Homo sapiens: one gene and its partners. The protein of the gene in region 1 purifies or fractionates together with the protein of each later gene. This does not show direct contact. Each region holds a gene or a part of one and is shown in the gene's direction. Other genes may lie near its edges. The genes, in order: SLC22A15, GHDC and ERGIC2.

Region 1 (7,106 bases):
TAGTAGCACCACTTCACTGGATGATCTGAGCTGTTCTGCTTTTTTTTTTTTTTTTTTTTTTTTTAAAATATATAGTCTGAACTAGTTACTGTTTAGTGCTAGGTGGAAACATCTCCTCACTGGGAGGTGAGTTCAGGTCGTGAAAAATAGAAAGCAGAGAGAAAAGAACTCATGAGATTTAAATATTTACTTATTCCACTAAGCCTGGAATGTAAGGCTTCCCACAGTCAGCCTCCATTTATCTTTCCTAATTTCCCATCCTATGTTCAGGCACACTGCACTACTTGTTCCTTATGCTTTTCTGCTCCATGCTGCTACTCAGTGCTGTGTCTGCTTTTTCAACAATCTTCTGCCCAGATCTTCTTATTTGATAAGTACACCACTGTCCTGATTTTCTCAAATGCCGTCCACCCCATCTTTTCCTGATCATAGCTTCAGCTACAAGTCATTGTCTTTCTTTTTTGAATTCCACGGCATTCACCCATACCCTTTGAGTGGCCCTTATGTTTCTGCCTCATAATGGAGCCATGTTCTCTCTTTCTAAACTGAGAGCTCTCCAACAGTAGCAGGCTCTTTGCTCCATGATAACATTTTCCCCAGTACCAAAGCCAGGGGTTTCCACACAGTAGATCCTTGGACATTGCACAAATGTTGGCACAAAAACATTTGGAATCACCTTTAGAATTTGTAATCAGCAACATAAGAAGCCACATTATATACCTTATTTGTTTACCAGAAACATTTTTACCTAGCTTAAAAATTCCTTATTTTCACAATACTTCAATTTCAGTAGATTTACTTTTTTTCTGAAAACCAGGGTCCCCTTAATTTACAAAGATTTGCCACCTTTAATGATATTCATGGAGCGGTTTTGAGTTGGGCAACATTGTTAAATTAGCATTTTAGCTTTCAAAGGAGCCCACGGCACAGATGACCCTGCTGCTATGTAGAGGACGGCATGTTCAAAGGCCTGCTCTTTCTTTTAAAAACGTGTCTTACTGTTTTGTACGTATAATCTGCGTGTGTTGGAACTCTGTTTCCAAATCTGTCCACTGGCAACTAGGTGACCCTCTTTAGAAGCAAGCTTATTGGCCTCTCAAAATGCAAAGAAATATAAGACCGTAAGTTTTCATGATCAAGATAAACCCTTTGCCAGGTAGAAATAGTTTTATTAACTCAGAGCCGAATTTCTAAAGCCTTCGTGTCTCTCAAATACCAGCTTTAAAATGATTTATAAAGTTTTAAAAGTAATTTTTATTGCTTATAAACAATTTTGAAAACACAGAGAGGCTAAGGGTAGGAGAAAATGACATATAACCCAAAGATAATGACTGTGAATATTTTGGCGTATTTTCTGTTGTTTCTTTTTTATTCCTCCCAATCCTCCCCAAAATAATTTTTATTATCATATATTTTCTCTCAATATTTATCACAGTAGTCCTCTTTCATTTAGACATAATCAAGTGGTTTTACGTAATAGCTCCTATATGCCCCTATGGATAGGGCCAATAAATCCTACTCATAACCTGCAGACCTAACTTCAACAGAACAATGTTTTACTTGATTATTTATTTGTTTGTCCGTAATAATAATCAAATGGCAATGAAGAAGTAAATGGAAGGATTTTTCAGGATGTTATAGATGGCCTTTGTTCCTGCTTTTGCTGACAGTCAAATATTGTGCGTGAATATTCCTTTCCTCAGTAGCAAAGCTCCTGGGAAAACTCCTGCCTTTTGGTTTCCAGCATCTTTCCTTTCAGCACCATTACATTACTCTGTACAAAATTGAAATGCTCAATAAATGGCTGTTGACAGACTGGCTGTCCATTAAGTTTCCAAATCCTGTAGTGTTTGTTCCTAATTCACTATCCTTATTAGAAGGCACAGTGAATTCTATAAAGCACCGTAAATAGCCAGTTTTATTCATCTAAGTTTCATTTTAGGCAGATAATGTCAAATTAGATTTAAAAAAAAAACAACCTTGATTTGTGTCTTGTAAACAAGGCTTCCATATTCCTGCCTTGGTTTTGTCTTTGGAAAGTCCTCTGAAAGTGTAGGTAAAATGGGGAAGAGGCAAAAAGATACATAATATTTAAGTTTTGAAACTCTTTGAATATATCAATGGCAATATAATTATCCAACACTTTGTAGTTACATTAGAAAATAACTGTTGTTTTGTAACTAGAAGTTGGTCAGGAAATAACTTCTATTCTTTAAGGTCTTGGGGGATCAGGAAATATCCTCAGGACATATTAAAGCCAGTGTGTCAGGTGATTTGAGTATTTTGAAGCAGTAAACACTCAAAAGTAGCTTTGGTAAACTTGGTTTCATCTTTATGTGTAGTCTTAAGATAATCTCTACCTCCTACATGTCACTATGTTAAAAATATTTCAGTTTAAATTTTTTTTTCCTGATGAGATAATAAAGATTTCTATCTTGTCAGGCTTTTTTAGAACTTAAAAAAACCCATTGTCTCTACAGTATTTTCAAACAACACTTGGCTAGGATTTAGAGCCATATCTTTGACCTGTGCTTTATGAAGAATTTTCATTATTCAGTCCTATAGACTGAATAATATGTTAATATTTAACATATTAAAATTCACATATTAAAATTTATTTAAAAATAAATGCATACTGTTTGCTTTTTAAACTGCAATTGTAAAGCATGTTCTTGGTTTTCAGTGATAAAGTAGACTACCATTTAATGTTAGCATGCTGTTGAAAGTAGCCCTTTCATATGTTATTGGGAGAGTCAAACTTTAAGTCTAACATGGAATCCCATTTGTGGTGCAGGAATCCACGTACTGAGTAGGTGATTTGTCTCCTTCCTGTGCACGTGTACCTATATGAATATACAGGCTTTAATGACATCTCTTTCAGATTCATTCCTGAATCACCTCGTTGGTTATACTCCCAGGGTCGACTGAGTGAGGCTGAAGAGGCGCTGTACCTCATTGCCAAGAGGAACCGCAAACTCAAGTGCACGTTCTCACTAACACACCCAGCCAACAGGAGCTGCAGGGAGACTGGAAGTTTCCTGGATCTCTTTCGTTACCGGGTCCTGTTAGGACACACTTTGATCCTGATGTTCATCTGGTAATTATACTAAGGCGTGTTCTGTTGCTCTTTAACTAAGGTTGCTCGAGCTTCTCTTGATATCCTGCTCCTTCTTCAGGGTACAGGGAATTTTACCTCTTTTGTTAGCTTGAGGTTGTTTTCTCAACAGCAAGTCTCCTGATCCTTAGCGCCTGGTTTTCTGCTTGCGCAGCCCCGTCTTTCTCAAGTAGCAGATGATAGTGCCTGATGGGCAGGTCCACTGAGCTTGAGTAAGTAGACATCAGAAGCACATCTTTGCTTTTGAGGTATTTATCATAAATATTTAAGCCTTCCTGCCCCTTCCCCTGCAAAAAAGGAAAGAAAGCAAATAAGCATGGTAGAAATAGATGAGTTTTTAAATAGGACTTTAAAAATACTTACCTTTGGCACTGGCATCAAGCAGTTTGCTAGCACATTCTGATTGCGGTGCTCCATGCTGCATTTTCTGTGGCACTCCCACTCACTAACTCACTGAGGTGGGCTAAATATGATCCCTTGTACAGATGGGACCCCAGGAGTTTGAAGTGATGAACCCTAAGCCACATATGTAAATCAGTGATTGAACTGATGAGCACTTTCTGAACCTGATTTTTCTGGTTGTTTAGCTTATTCCCACCTACCTTTCAAAATGCTCTCAGCGTGAGTGTAAGTTGCATTCAGCGGTTCAAGATGGTTTCATTTAAAGAATGAAGTTGTAGAAAGAGGAGAAATGGATGGGTGCATACAATTTGTGGATTGCACATGTGTTTTGATATTGTACATACTGCTAATGTGCCATAAGTGTTATCTGGGCAAAATCATACCTACTAGCCTAAAGGACAGTTGTGCTGTGGCTTATATGTATTTGCCATGAAGCCTGCATGGAGCCCTACATTTCATGCAGGGATAAAGGAAAGTGATTTTATATGAAAGTGATCTTATGTATAAAGCTACAAAGAATAGTAGCTTTAGAATAAGAAGCTGCAAAGATATTTTTCTATATCATATACTCTTTTTCTACCCAAGCAGTGGCTGCCACCTGTATGGTTGGGGGCCATGTTAACCAACTGCTGCTTTCCCCCACAGAACCATCACAGCACTAGGAATATCACAGATGCATAATAAATGTTGAGGCTTGGAGGCATGGAGATTAAGAAAACCGTTGAAAGCCAAACCTGACAACACAACATAGGAGCTGCTAATTTGAGGTTCTACCCATTCAAAAGCAAATACTTACAAAGTATGTTCAGGTACTTAGGGCTCCATAAAACTTTACATTTGTGTATCACATAGACAGTCAGTCAACCTCTGCCTTGGAGGAACCACCTACTTGTTGCAGATTATTCACTATTTTTATTTTTTCCCCCATGTATATTAACTTCTGGGTTCTGGCCTTCAATGGATAAACAAACAAACAAACCCTAGACTTAGGGCCAGGGAAACTGTCCCTGTTCATTTTATTTCTTACACAGCCAAATAAACTTCTTCCCTGAGGCTGAGAATGTTAAAACATGTGATAATAGAGACAGTCACTCCACATATTGCCGTTCTTTTTGAAGATGCTATAAAATTCTAAAATCTTCTCTGTGGATCTGTCATTCAAGAAAGCCTTAACTGGGGATTCAAATTATACCTCTGTGTTAAACATCTGTTCCTTTAGTTATTTTCCACAATAGTGCCTTTTTAAATAATTATTTGATGCTCTAAATATACTGTTAAATATTATGCAAGCATTTTAGATTTTGTTTGGGGGACATAAAGAGGATTGAAATGATTTTAATAGCTGTAATTATGGATCCCAATGACCAACTCTATGACGAAGGCAACTTGCAGAGCAGAGGCCCAGCCCTGGGGACAATGGGCCTTCCATGCTTCATGCTCTCCCCGTTCTCTCTCACCACCAGCTGGGAACTAAATTCCACTATTGTCCTGAACTGGCTTGTCTATTCTTGCCCTGACTTGATACTGTCACAGCTTGATTTAAATAGGGGTGTCTCTGTGTGTGTGTGTGTGTGTGTGTGTGTGTGTATGTGTGTGTGTGTGGCTGGAATTTCTATTGTAAATGCAGAACAGACACAGAAAACCAACTGGGAAACAGCATTATGTAAATGCTGTTTCTGCAGGTGTAAGGGATTTTAAAAACGTTTTAGAAAACTGCATGGATTTAAATTTATTTTGCCTTCTGCTTTCATGCAAGATACCTGGGAGACAGTGAGAACAGACAATGCAGTGTCACCTTGCATCCTTACATGTGATGTCCTGGCTACAATCCTGCCCGTTGTCCTTGGTATATGAATAACACTTCATCTCAGTAAGAAATCATGCATAATACTTCTGGCTCATTTGCTAGGGAGGGCTGGACTACTAACCACTCCAGCTTGAGGGTCCCTTCTCTTTACATCTCTCTCTTCTTACATTACTACAGCCTGGGGTACTTGGCCCACTTCTGAGATTAAGCAGAGATGGAAATAAAACTTTCCCTTTCCTGACTGATCTCATTATAGCCACAGCTCATTAGAGTTTCTCTAAGGAAAACTAAAGGGAAGCAAATGAGAATGTCCCCTTAATAAACACTGATCAAACTGTGTTGCAAAAGCATAAAACCTGATGAACTTAACAAAGCTTCGGTGTTTTACTGCTTGTATAGAAATTTGTGGTTTACCAAACATATTCATATTTTTGTAAAGCCCAGTTTCAGGGTTTTATTTTTGTTCATTCTATTCTATTTTGTTTTGTTTTATTTTAATAATGCAGTTTCCTAGGCATAGAAGTTCCTACTACCACCATTACTGTGTTTGAGGAAGCCCTGATTTGGATCTTTAGGTTGGCACTTGGCTTCCTCAGCTCTTTAGTTCTTGGATTGTAGGAGAGAGGCTTGGTGCCTAGCACTATGCCTGCCACCCAAGAGGAGCTCCCTGTTTGTTTCAGGAACGGTGTACATAAATAAATTAATGGCTTTTTAAGTGACCCTTCCTCGGTTGTTCCTCCTAGAAGATCCTGCCTTTGCTGTGACCTTTAATTTTTCTTTCCTGTTCTGGGAGTCTGTATCATGTGCACCTGCTGAATGCAGGATGGGGTTAAAACCTGCAATGGGAAGTGTCTGGATCATTGGGGATTGGAGTGCCAGTCATTTTGGGCCTGCAGGTGACCCACTGAAGATCCAGTCACTTCTCAGCTCATGTTCTTAAGGCCATCTTCTGTTGGCTTTCTCCATGGGAGTTCTTTTCTAGAATCATTTCAATAATATTACAACTATCTATAACAAGTGTTCCATAAATTGTTGCCTTAAATAAAGAATAGGGTCATTGTGTTCTATTAATTGCAGAAATGCTTGCTGAAAGCACATGCAATGTCTTTCCTCTTTAAGGGGCTGGCCATCCATTTGATTTATATAACATATAGACATAGCTCAAATTATTTCCAAACCCCCATAATTTTTTTGTTTTTTCCTAGTGTTGAAATTTAGATTAAAATAGAAAAATTAGTAGGAGAGACAAGCTTATTGCTTACAGCAGATCAAGCAATTATATTGAACCAATATTTGAATCTCCTCTGGCAAATTCTTATGTACTTTTCTGTTGTCCTTCTTGTCTTTTACCTCCTGGTCCTTTGACTCCCAATTGCAGGTTTGTGTGCAGCTTGGTGTATTATGGCCTAACTCTGAGTGCGGGTGATCTAGGTGGAAGTATTTATGCCAACCTGGCCCTGTCTGGCCTCATAGAGATTCCATCTTACCCTCTCTGTATCTACTTGATTAACCAAAAATGGTGAGTAAGTGTGGATGAATATGAAGTGCACCGTAGAGAATGCACACATACACATATGCCCTCTGATACACATGCATATCTATATGGTGTTGTCTTTGTATGCAGTATCAGCTGATTGCTCTGTGGTGATTAGAGTTTCTTTCCATCTAAAAACAGTTAGAATTCATTTCTTAGTGCAGGATTTCTTGAGTTTCATGTTTACGAGTTTTTATATAGATTTCAATTCAATATTGAATATCGAAATCCAAGATAGTATTGAATAT
Region 2 (7,023 bases), on another chromosome or scaffold:
TCCACCTGCCTTGGCCTCCCAAAATGCTGGGATTACAGGCGTGAACCACCATGCCCAGCCTGGAGCTGGCTCTTAAGGAACAAATAGGGCCGGGCACGGTGGCTCATGCCTGTAATCCCAGCATTTTGGGACGCCAAGGCAGGTGGATCACCTGAGGTCGGGAGTTCGAGACCAGTCTGGCCAACATGATGAAACCCCGTCTCTACTAAAAATACACAAAAATTAGCTGGGCGTGGTGGCACGCGCCTGTAATCCCAGCTACTTGGGAGGCTGAGGCAGGAGAATCGCTTGAACCCGGCAGGCAGAGATTGCAGTGAGCCGAGATCATGCCATTGCATTCCAGCCTGGACAACAGAGCAAGACTCTGTCTCAAATTAAAAAAAAACAAAAAACCCAGCCATTCCACTTGTAGGTATCTACATAAGAACCATGAGAACATATATGTACAGAAACACTTGTGACAAATGTTCATAACAGCATTATGCATAATAGCCAAAGGGCAGAAACAACCCAAATGTCCATCAACTGATGAATAAACAAAATGTATTATGGTATATCTGTACAATGGAATATACGGCAATAAAAAGGAATGAAGTGCTGACACACAGGACATGATGTTGTCACGGATGAACCTTGACAATATCATGCTAGATGAAAGAAGCCAGGCCGGGCACGGTGGCTCATGACTGGGACTCCAGCACTTTGGGAGGCTGAGGCGAGGGATCACTTGAGTGCAGCAGTTCAAGACCAGCTTGGACAACACGGTGAAACCCCATCTCTACAAAAAAATACAAAAATTAGCTGGATGTGGTGGTGCACCCCTGTAGTCCCACCTACTCAGGAGGCTGAGGTGGGAGGATCACTTGAGCTGTGATCATGCTACTGCACTCCAGCCTGGGTGACAGAGCGAGGAAAAAGAAAAGAAGCCAAGTACAAAAGACCGCATATTATATGATGCCATTTATAGGAAATGTCTAGGATAGGCAAATCTATGGAGACAGAAAGTAAATTTGAGGTTGCCTAGAGGCTGGGAAGGAGTTTGGAGGTAATAGTGAAAGGATACAGGGTTTGGGGGTTTTTTTGTTTTGTTTTTTTTTTTGTTTGTTTTTCTTGAGACAGAGTCTCGCTCTGTCACCCAGACTGGAGTGCAGTGGCGCCATCTCGGCTCACTACAACCACTGCCTCCCAGTTTCAAGCGATTCTCCCACCTCAGCCTCCCAAGTAGCTGGGATTATAGGCGCCGGCCACCAGACCCTGCTAATTTTTGTATTTTTAGTAGAGACAGTGTTTTGCCATGTTGGCCAGGCTGGTCTTGAACTCCTGACTTCAGGTGATCCACCTGCCTTGGCCTCCCAAAGTGCTGGGATTATAGGTGTGAGCCACCACGCCCAGCCTGAGTTTGGGGTTTTTTATTTTATTTTATTTTATTTTATTTTATTTTATTTTATTTTATTTTATTTAACGAATTGGGCAGTCTCCTGAGGCACAGTAGGCTCAGAGAGACTCTGCAGGGTTTGTTTTTGAGGTAAGGAAAATGTTATTATCTGTGGTGTTGGTTGCACATATCTCTGGATATACTAGATCTTGAATTGTACACTAAATGGGTGATTTGTATGGTGTGTGAATTATATCTAATAAAGCTGTTACTGGGCCAGGTCTAGTGGCTTACACCTGTAATTCCAGCACTTTGGAAGGCCAAGGTAGGAGGATCGCTGAGACCGGGAGTTCCAGACCAGTCTGGGCAACATAGTAAGACCCCCTGTCTCTACAAAAAAAAAAAAAAAATGTTTTTAATTAGCTGGGTGTGGTGGCACATGCCTGTAGTCCTAGCCACTCAGAGGCTGGGGTAGGAGGATTGCTTGATCCCCGGAGTTCAAGGTTGCAATGAGCTGTGACCAGGCCACTGAACTCCAGCCTGGACAACAGAGCAAGACCCTGTCTTTAAATAAATAATAAAAGCAAATGCAAGATCTCAGCGAGAAAAAACGTGAAAGTGAGGTGAGTTAGCCAGAGTGAGAACAGACCTGTTGAAAGAAGCTCAGCTGTGAAGGGAAGAGAGGTGCTCAGCAAGTAGTAGCTCTCTTCTCAAAGGTATCCAGAGGCAAGTAAGGGGAGAAAGGGAGTGGTTTTAGTGTTTTGAGAGCCTAGGTCAAGAACACACCAGCCTGGGCAACATAGGGAGCTCTCTCGTCTCTACAAAAAATAAAATTAGTTGAGCGTAGTGGTGCGTACCTGTAGTTCCAGTCCCTTGGGAGGCTGAGACAGGAGGATCTCTTGAGCCCAGGAGGTTGAGGTTGCAGTGAGCTATGATCGCACCACTGCACTCCAGCCTGGGCAATAGATCAAGACCCTGTCTCAAAAACAAAAAACAAAAAAAGAGAAGTTTGTAATTTTCCTTGGGATAAAGGCAACAGGCTAACACAGATGGTCACCCAGTAACCAGGTAAAGTTAAGATAAACTATATGTGACTGGCTGGGTGCAGTGGCTCAGGCCTGTAATCCCAGCACTTTGGGAGGCCGAGGCAGGTGGATCACTTGAGGTCAGGAGTTTGAGACCAGCCTGGCCAACATGGTGACATGGTGAAACCCCGTCTCTACTAAAAATACAAAAAATTAGCTGGGTGTGGTGATGCGTGCCTGTAATCCCAGCTACTCGGGAGGCTGAGGCAGGAGAATTGCTTGAATCTGGGAGGCGGAGGTTGCAGTGAGCTAAGATCGTGCCATTGCACTCCAGCCTGGGCAACAAGAATAGAACTCTGCCAAAAAAACAAAAAAAAAGAAGTTTGTAATTTTCCTTGGGATAAAGCCAGCAAGCTAACACAGATGTTCACCTAATAACCATGTAAAGTTAAGATAAACTATGTGACTGGCTGGGTGTGGTGGCTCACACCTGTAATCCCAGCACTTTGGGAGGCCAAGGAGGGTAGATCACTTGAGGTCAAGAGTTTGAGACCAGCCTGGCCAACATGGTGAAACCCCATCTCTACTGAAAATACAAAAATTAGCTGGGCGTGGTGGCACACACCTGTAATCCCAGCTGCTTGGGAGGCTGGGGCAGCAGAATCGCTTGAACCTGGGAAGTGGAGGTTGCAGTGAGCTGAGATTGTGCCACTGCACTCCAGCCTGGGCAACAGAGCAAGACTGTGTCTCAAAAAAAAAAAAAAAAAAAAAAGATAAACTATATGTGACAAGTCCTCTTACTTGAGGACTCGTTATTGTTTATCTTGAAAACGTGTATGTAATGGGTTGTATGCGCTTGGCTATACAAAAAAGTAAGATTTCCTCCCTTCTTTGCAAGCTCTTAGCAGATCACCTGTCATGTACATCACATTGTGGTTGAATGCTTATTCAATAATAAAATTGTTTTCTTTCTCAACTACCTTGAGGGAGAGGATGGGGTTTTTTTTGTTGTTGTTTTTGTTTTGTTTGTTTTTGAGACGGAGTTTCGCTCATTGCCCAGGCTGGAGTACAATGGCGCAATCTCAGCTCACTGCAACCTCCGCCTCCCAAGTTCAAGTGATTCTTCTGCCTCAGCCTCCCAAGTAGCTGGGATTACAGGCATGTGCCACCACATCTGGCTAATTTTGTATTTTTAGTAGAGATGGGGTTTCACCATGTTGGTCAGGCTGGTGTCAAACTCCTGACCTCAGATGATCCACCCGCCTCAGCCTCCCAAAGTGTTGGGAATACAGGCGTGAGCCACCGCGCCCAGCTGAGTTGGGGTTTTAAGAGTTCTTAAGCTTGCCCCTCTCCCAGCTCAAGTGGCTTAATGGCGTTCTTTCCCACACACACCTTTCTGTTCCTTCACCTGCGCAAGTTTGAGGACCATGCTAGTCTGGTCCTAACTGCCCCAACTGCCAGCCTGGGCTAGCACCCGACATGAAGTCCTGTAGGCGACCTGCCCCTTTAAGAGCACCCCCCTCCTTCAGCTCCTCCCTCAGGCCTGGTGGCCGGATTTCCCAGTTGGGGCCCAGCCTTTTAAAGCCATCGCTCCTTCTTTCTGGCCGGATGTGTGCTGAGACCCAGAGTCACCCAGGGGTCTCCGTCACGTGCCAGGAGTAGGCAGAAGTGGGCTGTGACAGGTGCATGTGGGCATGGACCCCACAGCCTGGGGCTCAGGAGGGACAAGGAGCTGGGACAGGGTGGATCCCGAGAGAAAGCAAAGCCACTCGGGAGTGGGCAAGAGATATCGTTACGCAGCTGCTGTGTGCCCGACCGACCCTGTCCGAAACCCTTCCTGTACCTTCCCTTCCTCTTCCTTCTTTTCTCCCTTTTTTTTCTTTTCTTTTTTTTTTTGACAGGGTCTCACTCTGTTGCCCAAGCTGGGGTGCAGTGGCACGATCTTGGCTCACTGTAGCCTTGACATCCTGGGCTCAAGGGATCCTCCCATCTCAGCCTCCCAAGTAGCTGCGACTATGGGTGTGACACCACGCTGGGCTAGTTTTTCAATTTTTTGTAGAGATGGAGTCTCCCTATGTTGCTCAGGCCGGTTGCAAACTCCTGGGCTCAAGTGATTCTCCTGCCTCAGCCTCCCAAAGTGCTGGGATTACAGATGATAGCCACCTCACCCGGCCCACCCCTACCTTCTGAAAGAGGCATTCTTATTCTTATTCCCATTTTGCAGATCAGGAAACAGAGCTCAGTGCAGCCCACTAAATTGCTCAGGGCCCTACAGCTAACAAGCGGCAGAGGCAGGATCTGCACTCAGGTCAGTGGGACTCCAAAGCTTTGATAGTCTCTCCTTTGCATCACCTGCCCCACAGGGTCCTGCCTTCTTCCCAATTTCATTTTTCCTCGGTTTTCCTGTATGCAGTAGAGCGTGGGAGGAGAAATGGATAATTGCTGCATGCCCCCATATCTCGGTTCCTTCCTCTTCCCAGGAGCTGCTTGGAGATGCTGCTGTGGCCACTGCTGCTGCTGCTGCTGCTGCTGCCAACATTGGCCCTGCTCAGGCAGCAGCGGTCCCAGGATGCCAGGCTGTCCTGGCTTGCTGGCCTCCAGCACCGAGTGGCATGGGGGGCCCTGGTCTGGGCAGCCACCTGGCAGCGGCGGAGGCTGGAGCAGAGCACGCTCCATGTGCACCAGAGCCAGCAGCAGGCCCTGAGGTGGTGTCTACAGGGAGCCCAGCGCCCCCACTGTTCCCTCAGAAGGAGCACAGGTGTGTTTCCCAGGGTCTGGGGAGGTGACCCAAAGAGAAAGAAACCCCACAGGACCGTCAGATTCCAGAGCCTGATGGCCCCCTTACCTCCTCCACTGCCAACGGAGTGGCCTGACCCAGAGACCCAGGACTGGCTTTCTTGTCCAAGATGAATTTCCCATGCTGGGTCCTTACATCCTCTCTACCCCAGGCCTATTCTCGGTTCCTCCCTCAAGGGTCTCACCAGTCTTGCCTGAAACTCTTGGGAAACTGGCTTCCTGAGGCGTTTCTGTTGTCATTGGGGCTATAGACATAAGCACCTTCCGGAATCATCTCCCTCTGACCAAGGCCAGCCAGACCCAGCAGGAAGACAGTGGAGAGCAGCCACTGCCCCCGACCTCAAACCAGGACCTTGGGGAGGCCTCTCTGCAGGTAATCTAGGATGGCCAGAGCCCAGTCCTGGCCACAGCCCAGTCCCACCAGAGACCTCTGACTTGCAGCCAAACCCTCCAGTCATGGTGGGCAAAGAACCCCCAAATGGGGGCTCTGGGTCTGGCTCTGACACCAGACCAACATTCTCTCTTTCCTCCTCCAGGCCACCTTGCTGGGTCTGGCAGCCCTAAACAAGGCCTACCCAGAAGTGCTGGCTCAGGGACGCACTGCCCGTGTGACGCTTACATCCCCTTGGCCCCGACCCCTGCCTTGGCCTGGGAATACCCTGGGCCAGGTGGGCACCCCTGGAACCAAGGACCCTAGGGCCCTGCTGCTGGACGCACTGAGGTCCCCAGGGCTGAGGGCACTGGAGGCTGGGACGGCTGTCGAACTTCTGGATGTTTTCTTGGGCCTGGAGACTGATGGTGAAGAGCTAGCTGGGGCGATAGCTGCCGGGAACCCTGGAGCGCCTCTCCGTGAACGGGCAGCTGAGCTCCGGGAGGCCCTAGAGCAGGGGCCACGGGGACTGGCCCTTCGGCTCTGGCCAAAGCTGCAGGTGGTGGTGACTCTGGATGCAGGAGGCCAGGCCGAGGCTGTGGCTGCCCTCGGGGCCTTGTGGTGCCAAGGACTAGCCTTCTTCTCTCCTGCTTATGCTGCCTCGGGAGGTCAGTGGGACTCAAGGGCAGTGAGGTGGGGGCAACGGTCAGTGGTCACATGACAAGCAGCCATGCATTGGGCCCTACATAATCATCTCATTTAATCCTCCCCAACAAGCTGCATGCTAGGGCCAGCAGCCTCCTTTTACAAGTGAAGAAATTCAGGCTCTCTAGGTTAAGAGTCTTGTAGCTGGGTGCAGTGGCTCACGCCTGTAATCCCAGCACTTTGGGAGGCCAAGGTGGATGGATCGTTGAGGTCAGGAGTTCCAGACCAGCCTGGCCAACATGGCGAAACCCCATCTCTACTAAAAATACAAAAACTAGCGGAGTATGGTGGTGCACGCCTATAATCCCAGCTACCTGGGAGGCTGAGGCGGGAGGATTGCTTAAACCTTGGAGGCAGAAATTATAGTGAGCTGAGATCGCGCCATTGCACTCCAGCCTGGGTGACAGAGCAAGACCCTGTCTCAAAAAAAAAAAAAAAAAAAAAAGGCCGGGGCAGTGGCTCACGGGTGTAATCCCAGCACTTTGGGAGAGGCTGAGGTGGGTGGATCACCTGAAGTTAGGAGTTTAAGACCAGCCTGGCCAATGTGGTGAAACCCTGTCTCTACTAAAAATACAAAAATTAGCCAGGTGTGGTGGCAGGCGCCTGTAATCTCAGCTACTCAGGAGGCTCAGGCAGGAGAATCACTTGAACCCAGGAATCACTGAATCACTGAGCCGAGATCGCACCACTGCACTCCAGCCTAGGTGACAGAGCGAGACTCTGTCTCAAAAAAAAAAAGAGTCTTGCACAAA
Region 3 (8,027 bases), on another chromosome or scaffold:
TCAGCACCCTGTGTCTAGCTCAGGGTCTGTGAATGCACCAATCGACACTCTGTATCTAGCTACTCTGGTGGGCCTTGGAGAACCTTCATGTCTAGCTCAGGGATTGTAAATACACCAATCGGCACTCTGTATCTAGCTCAAGGTTTGTAAACACACCAATCAGCACCGTGTCTAGCTCAGAGTTTGCGAATGCACCAATCGACACTCTGCATCTAGCTACTCTGGTGGGGCCTTGGAGAACCTTTGTGTGGACACTCTGTATCTAGCTAATCTGGTGGGGATGTGGAGAACCTTTGTGTCTAGCTCAGGGATTGTAGGTGCACCAATCAGTGCCCTGTCAAAACAGACCACTTGGCTCTACTAATCAGCAGGATGTAGGTGGGGACTTATAAGAGAATAAAAGCAGGCTGCCTGAGCCAGCAGTGGCAACCTGCTCGGGTCCCCTTCCACACTGTGGAAGCTTTGTTCTTTCGCTCTTTGCAATAAATCTTGCTACTGCTCACTCTTTGGGTCCACACTGCCTTTAAGAGCTGTAACACTCACCGCAAAGGTCTGCAGCTTCACTCCCGAGCCAGCGAGACCATGAACCCACCAGAAGGAAGAAACTCCGAACACATCTGAACATCAGAAGGAACAAACTCCGGACATGCCGCCTTTAAGAACTGTAACAGTCACGGCGAGGGTCCGCGGCTTCATTCTTGACGTCAGTGAGACCAAGAACCCACCAATTCCAGACACATTTTGGCGACCCAGATGGGACCTTCGCCAATCACCAAGCAGTAAGACCATCGCCTATTGCTGAGCGGTGAGACAATCACCTATTGCCAAGCAGTGAGTACCATCGGACCCCTTTAGCTTGCTATTCTGTCCTATCTTTCCTTAGAATTTGGGGGCTAAATACCGGGCACCTGTTGGCCAGTTAAAAGCGACTAGCGTGGCCACCGGACTAAAGACACGGGTGTCAGGTTTTCTGGGAAAGGGCTCTATAACAACCCCCGACTCTTCGGAGTTGGGACCATTGTTTTCCCTAGAACCAGCTTCTGCTTTTCCAGTACTTCTGGGCTGAGCCGAGGGTCGACAGAGAGGAAAGCCATGCAGCTCTGGGGTCCCGACAACAAGTTGGTTGACCCTGCGGCCATGAGCAGAACTCTCAAAAGCATGTCGCCCAAGCGAGACTCGCCCATCTATCCTATCTATCCTGACCCTTGCCCCCTGGGTCCTAATGCCTGTCAGACAAACTTCCTCTTGCCTCTCTTCTCTGAGGTTAGTCCCGCTTCTAAAAATTGCTACCGTCTCTGGTGCTTTTCTAGTTTCTCCTATAAGAATGATTTCTAGTATAAACTCCAGGACTCTGTTACCTTCTTTAGGCACCCGGGCTCACCAATCAGAAAGACATAATTTTTGCCCAAAGCCCCATCGTAGTGGGGACTACCTGGAATTTTAGGATCCCTCCTCAGACTAACAGGCCTAACAAAAGCTATTCCTGAAGCTAGGATATGGGGAGCCTCAGAAATTATATCCTTCCTATTCATATAAGTGAGGACAAAAGGTGTCACTCTTCCAAACCTGGAGATCCCTTCCCTCCCTCAGGGTATGGCCCTCCACTTCATTTTTGGGGCATAACATCTTTATAGGACAGGGGTAAAGTCCCAGTACTAACAGGAGAATGCTTAGGACTCTAACAGCTTTTCGAGAATGCGTCGGTAAGGGCCACTAAATCGATTTTTCTCAGTTGGTCCCCCTTGTGGCCTAGGAGGACAGGCAAGGGTGCAGGTTTTCGAGAATGCGTCGGTAAGGACCGCTAAATCTGACTTTCCTTGGTCCTCCATGTGGTCTGGGAGGAAAACTAGTGTTTCTGCTGCTGCGTTGGTGAGCGCAACTATTCCGATCAGCAGGGTCCAGGGACTGTTGCGGGTTCTTGGGCAGGGGTTGTTTCTGCTGCTGTGTTGGTGAGCGCAACTATTCTGATCAGCAGGGTCCAGGGACCGTTGTAGGTTCTTGGGCAGGGGGAGAAACAAAATAAACCAAAACGCGGCAGTTTTGTCTTTCAGATGGGAAACACTCAGGCATCAACAGGCTCACCCTTGAAATGCATCCTAAGCCATTGGGACCAATTTGACCCACAAACCCTGAAAAAGAGGCGGCTCATTTTTTTCTGCACTACGGCTTGGCCCCAATATTCTCTCTCTGATGGGGAAAAATGGCCACCTGAGGGAAGTACAAATTACAATACTATCCTGCAGCTTGATCTTTTCTGTAAGAGGGAAGGCAAATGGAGTGAAATACCTCATGTCCAAGCTTTATTTTCATTGAGGGAGAATACACAACTATGCAAAGCTTACAATTTATATCCCACAGGAGGATCTCTCAGCTTATCCCCATATCCTAGCCTCCCTATAGCTCCCCTTCCTATTAATGATAATCCTCCTCTAATCTCCCCTGGCCAGAAGGAAACAAGCAAGGAAATCTCCAAAGGACCACAAAAAACCCCGGGCTATTGGTTATGTCCCCTTCAAGCTATAGCGGGAGGGGTATTTGGCCCAACCCGGGTACATGTCCCCTTCTCCCTCTCTGATTTAAAGCAGATCAAGGCAGACCTGGGGAAGTTTTCAGATGATCCTGATAGGTACACAGATGTCCTACAGGGTCTAGGCAAACCTTTGACCTCACTTGGAGAGATGTCATGCTACTGTTAGATCAAACCCTGGCGTTTAATGAAAAGAATGCGGCTTTAGCTGCAGCCCAAGAGTTTGGAGATACCTGGTATCTTAGTCAAGTAAATGACAGAATGACAGCCGAAGAAAGGGACAAATTCCCGACTGGTCAGCAAGCCATCCCCAGTATGGATCCCCACTGGGACCTTGACTCAGATCATGGGGACTGAAGTCATAAACATCTGTTGACCTGTGTTCTAGAAGGACTAAGGAGAATTAGAAAAAAGCCCATGAATTATTCAATCGAACTAGAGAAAGAAAAAAATGGCACAAAAACACCTTTTGATCATCTTTACTAAATACAGGTTGTTATGGAACAATTATTAATCTCAGTCTAAAACCTATCTTATGCGGGTAATACATAATGGACTTTTTAAAGCAAATTGTTTTTCAGACATAACGCCACTGATAACACAAGATTAAGTATCTATCTCTTTTTAAAGATGATCCTGATAGGTACATAGATGTCCTACAGGGTCTAGGGCAAACCTTTGACCTCGCTTGCAGAGATGTCGTGCTACTGTTAGATCAAACCCTGGCCTTTAATGAAAAGAATGCGGCTTTAGCTGCAGCCCGAGAGTTTCAATCTTCAGGGGAAATTAAGTTCCCTCTTCACTGGGTAGATTAGAAAATGGTGAGTTGTTTTCTAAATAAGAAGGATCAAATTAGTCAGTTTTGCTACACTGGGAAATCCAACTCTCATGGGATAGTTGTTACCCTGAAAGTAGGTTATCCAGGAGATGAGGGATCAGATGTAACTAAGTGAACAACAGCCAGCCTCCATCCAAGCAAGAGCCCATATTCACAAAGAAGGAAGAGTTGCTGATGCCTTTACGGCAAAGATTAAAAAAAGGCATTTTAGATGTATATTAATTTACTTAATCCTCGTAACAACTCTGAGATATTATCATGCCCATTTTACAGATGAGCAAATGGAGACACAAAGAGATGAAATAATGTGGTCAAGGTTACATGCTAGTAAGTTGCTGATCTGGAATTCTAACCCAGGAAGTCCTGTCTCCAGTGTCTATGATTTCACCCACTACACTATACTTCTTAAGCATGTCAAGAAAGTGAGAACTTTAAATTGATTTAATTAGACTAACTCTGAAAGTCTGAAAATAAAATTGATTCATTGGAAACTTTTCATCAGTCCTTATTTTGGGGGATATTCAATTTAGTGAAATTTAGTATTTCAGTAAAGGTTAATTCACTACATAAAACAATGTGATTTTTTTCCTTTGAGGCACAGTTTAGTATTGTGATCAAGATTTCCCTGACTCTCCCAGCGGTCTGAATTTGGGTAAATCACTTCACTACCCCTTGACTCAAATTCCGTATTTATAAAACAGGTAAATACTGGTATTATCTTCTAAGAGTGTTGTGAGGATACGCAGATTTTTTAAAAAAGCAGTTAAAGCCTTTAAACAGTAATTATAAGCAGTTGTCATAATTATGCCGTTGTTAGACTTCTAGGTCAATGAATCAGAAAATTTAAATCTCAATGTTTGATTATAAAATCTGGTAACAGATGGGTGAAAAGGAACCTGGAATGGGTTTACTCTCCAGGAGTTCACATTTAACTTTTCTTTCCGAAGTTCCGTCTATTAACTCCTGTTCTATGAAGTGGTAGAAAAAGATGAGGTATTAATTTTCTTTCTTAACAAATATTTGAAGGCATAGTTGGTGTTGGCGAAGGGAGATGAGGAAGACATATGTGCTTTCTTATGATATTAAAACCTGGAAGACAATAAAAACGCTGATCAAATAATAAAAAGCGTTACCTATGGCGGAAAAGGAAGCTCAAATGTTCTTGTCAGGGGAAAACGACACAAAAACTGAAAGAGGGAAACAAAACAATTGCACAGGTGATATGCATTAGGGTTGTTAGGGATAATTTCTGCGCCCAAGGCTCTTATTAGTAATGAAATACGGTGTGAGGAGCTGAGATTCGTTCTGCAGTCTCAGTGTTAGTCGGAAAGTAACCCCTCCCTTCCCATAGAAACAGAACCGGACTGGCGGCGCGATTACACCTAAAACAAGTTGCAACCTCATTTCCCTGTAGGCACGCCTCTTTTATCTTAACCACGCCTCTTCATTCCCTAAGCACGTCGTAAGCAAAGGGAATATCGCGAGATCTGTACATTGTCTCTTTTCTGACGTTTTCAGCTGTGATAGTCGCTTTTGTTCTCGCGATATTTCCGGGTACGCGGGAGCCCCGGCGACCCGGGCTTCTGTGAAACATGGCGGTAGGCTGGGACCATAACACAAGGTAAAATACTGAAACACCGCTGGGTGCTGTTCCCTCGGTTGTTCCAGGGCTGTTTAGGGCGTAAATGCAATTGAGGGAACTGGGAGCCTGTCATGGGCTTGGCTTCCTGTCTTCATTGATCTCTAGAGAGCCGGTCGGACGGAGAAGCCGCTCCACCTCCCACGGGGGCGTTACTGGCAGGACCCTAGGCAACGATGCTACTGGGAGCTTCCCTTTGCCAGGTCCGGGTGCTTGTGTGCTATCCTGCAACTCGAAGGAGTTCAGGTGCTTCCTCGATCGCACCTGATTCTGACCCTTTGCTTGTCACAGTGCCCGGTTCCCAGGTGGTTTCTCCAGTCCGCAGGCGAGTAGGATCCCAATCGGTCGAGTCCCAGTCCTCCCGGATGTCAGACTCCCTACCCCCATTCAGACAAATGCCACATTCGTGGCAGCACGTTGCCCTCTGTCTCTTTAAGAGTCTTGGCCTTGCCCGGAAGGAGTTTCGCACAGTGCTTCGGAAAATGAGAAGGGGGCGGGGGAGGGCGAGATGCTGAGAGACAGGTTCGACTGTCACTACTTTTCCTCGGCGCAGGAAACCTTCCGAAGGCAACGTGTCAACTCGTGGTGGAGAATAGCCTTGTTTATCTGTAGTATATAGAGTTGACAGGTCATTGTTTGAGAAAACACGTTTAAATAACTTTTATATTTTAGTGCCCCCGAGACTTAAAGACAAAGTGGCATAATAGCTGTTAAAATGTTGCCAGACTGGTTTTCAGAAGCAATGAAAGTTACAGTTAAAAACAGGATTTATTCATTTGAAGTTGTAATTCAGTATTTCAGTTAATTGCCTAGCCTGATACATTGGACTCCAGTATACAGCAATTATAAAGAATGAGCCTGGCTTGTTCACTGAAAAAAGACATGGTTATTTACCTAATTTGTTTGTTGATATCTTTAAGTTGTTGTAATTATGCCAGTTCTAGTGGAAAACATGAGGAAAAAAATTCTGATTTTTTGGGAGGGTGGGGGTTGGCGGTGCAGGGATGGATAGAGAGAGGAGGATTTTTTTTTTTTTTTTAAATGATGGTGAACTTTAGTATACAGTTGCGTGTTATAATGGCTTCCTGGTACAAATCATAAAAATATATCAAGTTTGAAAGATCTCTCAAAGGAAATCAGGCCTAGTCTGGAACAACGAGAGTTAGGGAAACAACAACAACCACCCACACATTTTCTTTCTTTGGGGATTGATGATTTAAGTGAAAGAAATGGCTATTTTTTTTTTCTTTACCAGAAGTTACTTTTAGGCAGTCAGTGCCTGCTAAAAATCCTATTTAATAGTTTCCCAATATTTATTGTAATTCTGCCTCTTAATGTCATAGTGGTCAAATTATTTAACCTCTCTGTGCCTTAGTTCCTTCATCGGCCAAATGAAATAATGATACTTAACTCATAGGAAGGTTGTGAGGATTGAATGTGTTGAAACATACAAAGCATTTAGAACAATACCTGGCACACAGTAAACACTCAATGCATGTTAGCTCTTGTTATTTTTTATTTTCATTTTCTAACATCTGTAGTTACAAATGTTGCCTTGTTACTTAGTCAAAATGTAGACTGAAGAAGATATTGTTTAAAATAATATCTTTCTGAACTCCAGATTGATTAAACACTCTGATTGGTGTGGTTAATGTGTCCTTAAACTCCCATTATCCAGTTGCTTGTTTTCTTAAATTATTATCCTCTTTTAATGACTAAAGCATAAGTTCTTCCTTTCTATTGCTCTATATAGTCACGTTGTAGTGTGGCTCAGATCTACCCTCTGAGTGCCTTATTAACCCCCATACTCTTTGCTTTTGAGAACATTCATTCTATTGTAAATATATTTCATGTGTCCCTGACCTTTTCCTTAATACTTTTTAACTTTAATTTTCTATACTTTTATTGAGAGCTACTATAGTCTAGTTGTTCTTTGAGGAGGATTATACTTGTCCTTGCTTCACATTGCTACTAGGCACTTTTAAGGTTATTCTGTTATCACTCTATAGTCTCTCTTAACTTTTAGTCTTATCAGTTTATGCCATCCTAACTTCAGGAGATTGTCAACTAACCTCACATACTCTCCCACTTTCCTCAAAGACTTTAACAACTAAATCTCAAATATCCTACAAATCTTTGCTTTTTTTCAGAGAATTAGAAATAGATATTACATGCCTCATTTTTATCTTAACACTGTGAGGTAGCCATTATGTCCTGCTGCCCATCTTTTAAAATAAAATTATGGAGAGAGGATTCTAAGAAGTTGAGTATCTTTCCACACTTGTCACACAACTAGTAAGTGCCTAGGTAATCAGGGTTTTCTGATTATAAACTCACATTTATATTGTCTTCCTTGGCTTCCAAGTAAACCTTTCTGTCACTTAGAATGTCATTAGGTTTATTTGAATTATGTTGGGGTAAACAAACATAATATTTAACTCTGTTGTAAAAGGTCCAAATTTTAAGGTAAAAATAAGTACAATTGAGGGGGTTGGGGGGTTGCTATCTAGTATTTGCAAAGTAAAGCTAAGCTATCTTATAAAATGTTTTTTATTGTAAAGTATTCTAATGCAATATAATCAAGTAATTTAAAATTACAGATAGGTTGTAGTTTTACCTTTTATTTCTGATATTCAGCGATGGCCTGAATTATATTGCCTGTATTAGTTGCCTGGGGCTGCTGTAACAACTTACTATAAGCTGGGAGGCTTAAAACAAAAGAAATTTATTCTCTCACAGTTCTGGAGGCTAGAAGTCTGAAATCAAGGTGTCAGCAAGACTTGAAGACTCTAGGAAAGAATCCTTCTTTGACTCTTCCTGGCTTCTGGGCAATCCTTGCTATGCCTGGGTTTGTAGACACATCACTGTAGTCTCTGCCTTTGTTTTCACATGGCATTTTCCCTTGTGTTTCTCTGTGTCTTCACATGGCCTTCTTAAAAGGACACCAGTCTCAGATTTTGGAGCACCCTGATCCAGTATGATCTCATCTTAATTAGTTATATCTGAAAGACTCAAATATTTCC

Evidence for each region.
Region 2: the proteins of SLC22A15 (region 1) and GHDC purify together in Homo sapiens (affinity purification with mass spectrometry; 2 studies listed by BioGRID and IntAct, with this or other methods). This does not show direct contact.
Region 3: the proteins of SLC22A15 (region 1) and ERGIC2 purify together in Homo sapiens (affinity purification with mass spectrometry; 2 studies listed by BioGRID and IntAct, with this or other methods). This does not show direct contact.

Annotation. Positions count from the first base shown.
Region 1 is NC_000001.11:116,028,485-116,035,590, forward strand, and holds part of SLC22A15 (solute carrier family 22 member 15), read left to right. Parts: intron 1-2,881; coding exon 2,882-3,097; intron 3,098-3,227; coding exon of another isoform or gene 3,228-3,246; exon of another isoform or gene 3,247-4,162; coding exon of another isoform or gene 4,163-4,163; exon of another isoform or gene 4,164-5,273; coding exon of another isoform or gene 5,274-5,274; exon of another isoform or gene 5,275-5,370; intron 5,371-6,702; coding exon 6,703-6,843; intron 6,844-7,106. UniProt on the Homo sapiens protein: Organic zwitterion/cation transporter with apparent specificity for amino acids and their derivatives. Has low affinity for its substrates and may regulate their flux across the plasma membrane at high substrate concentrations.
Region 2 is NC_000017.11:42,191,452-42,198,474, reverse strand, and holds the start of GHDC (GH3 domain-containing protein isoform 1 precursor), read left to right. Parts: upstream 1-3,980; 5' UTR 3,981-4,082; intron 4,083-4,624; 5' UTR 4,625-4,708; intron 4,709-4,880; 5' UTR 4,881-4,893; coding exon 4,894-5,158; intron 5,159-5,447; coding exon 5,448-5,569; intron 5,570-5,732; coding exon 5,733-6,234; intron 6,235-7,023.
Region 3 is NC_000012.12:29,378,074-29,386,100, reverse strand, and holds the start of ERGIC2 (endoplasmic reticulum-Golgi intermediate compartment protein 2), read left to right. Parts: upstream 1-4,928; 5' UTR 4,929-4,986; exon of another isoform or gene 4,987-5,632; intron 5,633-8,027. UniProt on the Homo sapiens protein: Possible role in transport between endoplasmic reticulum and Golgi.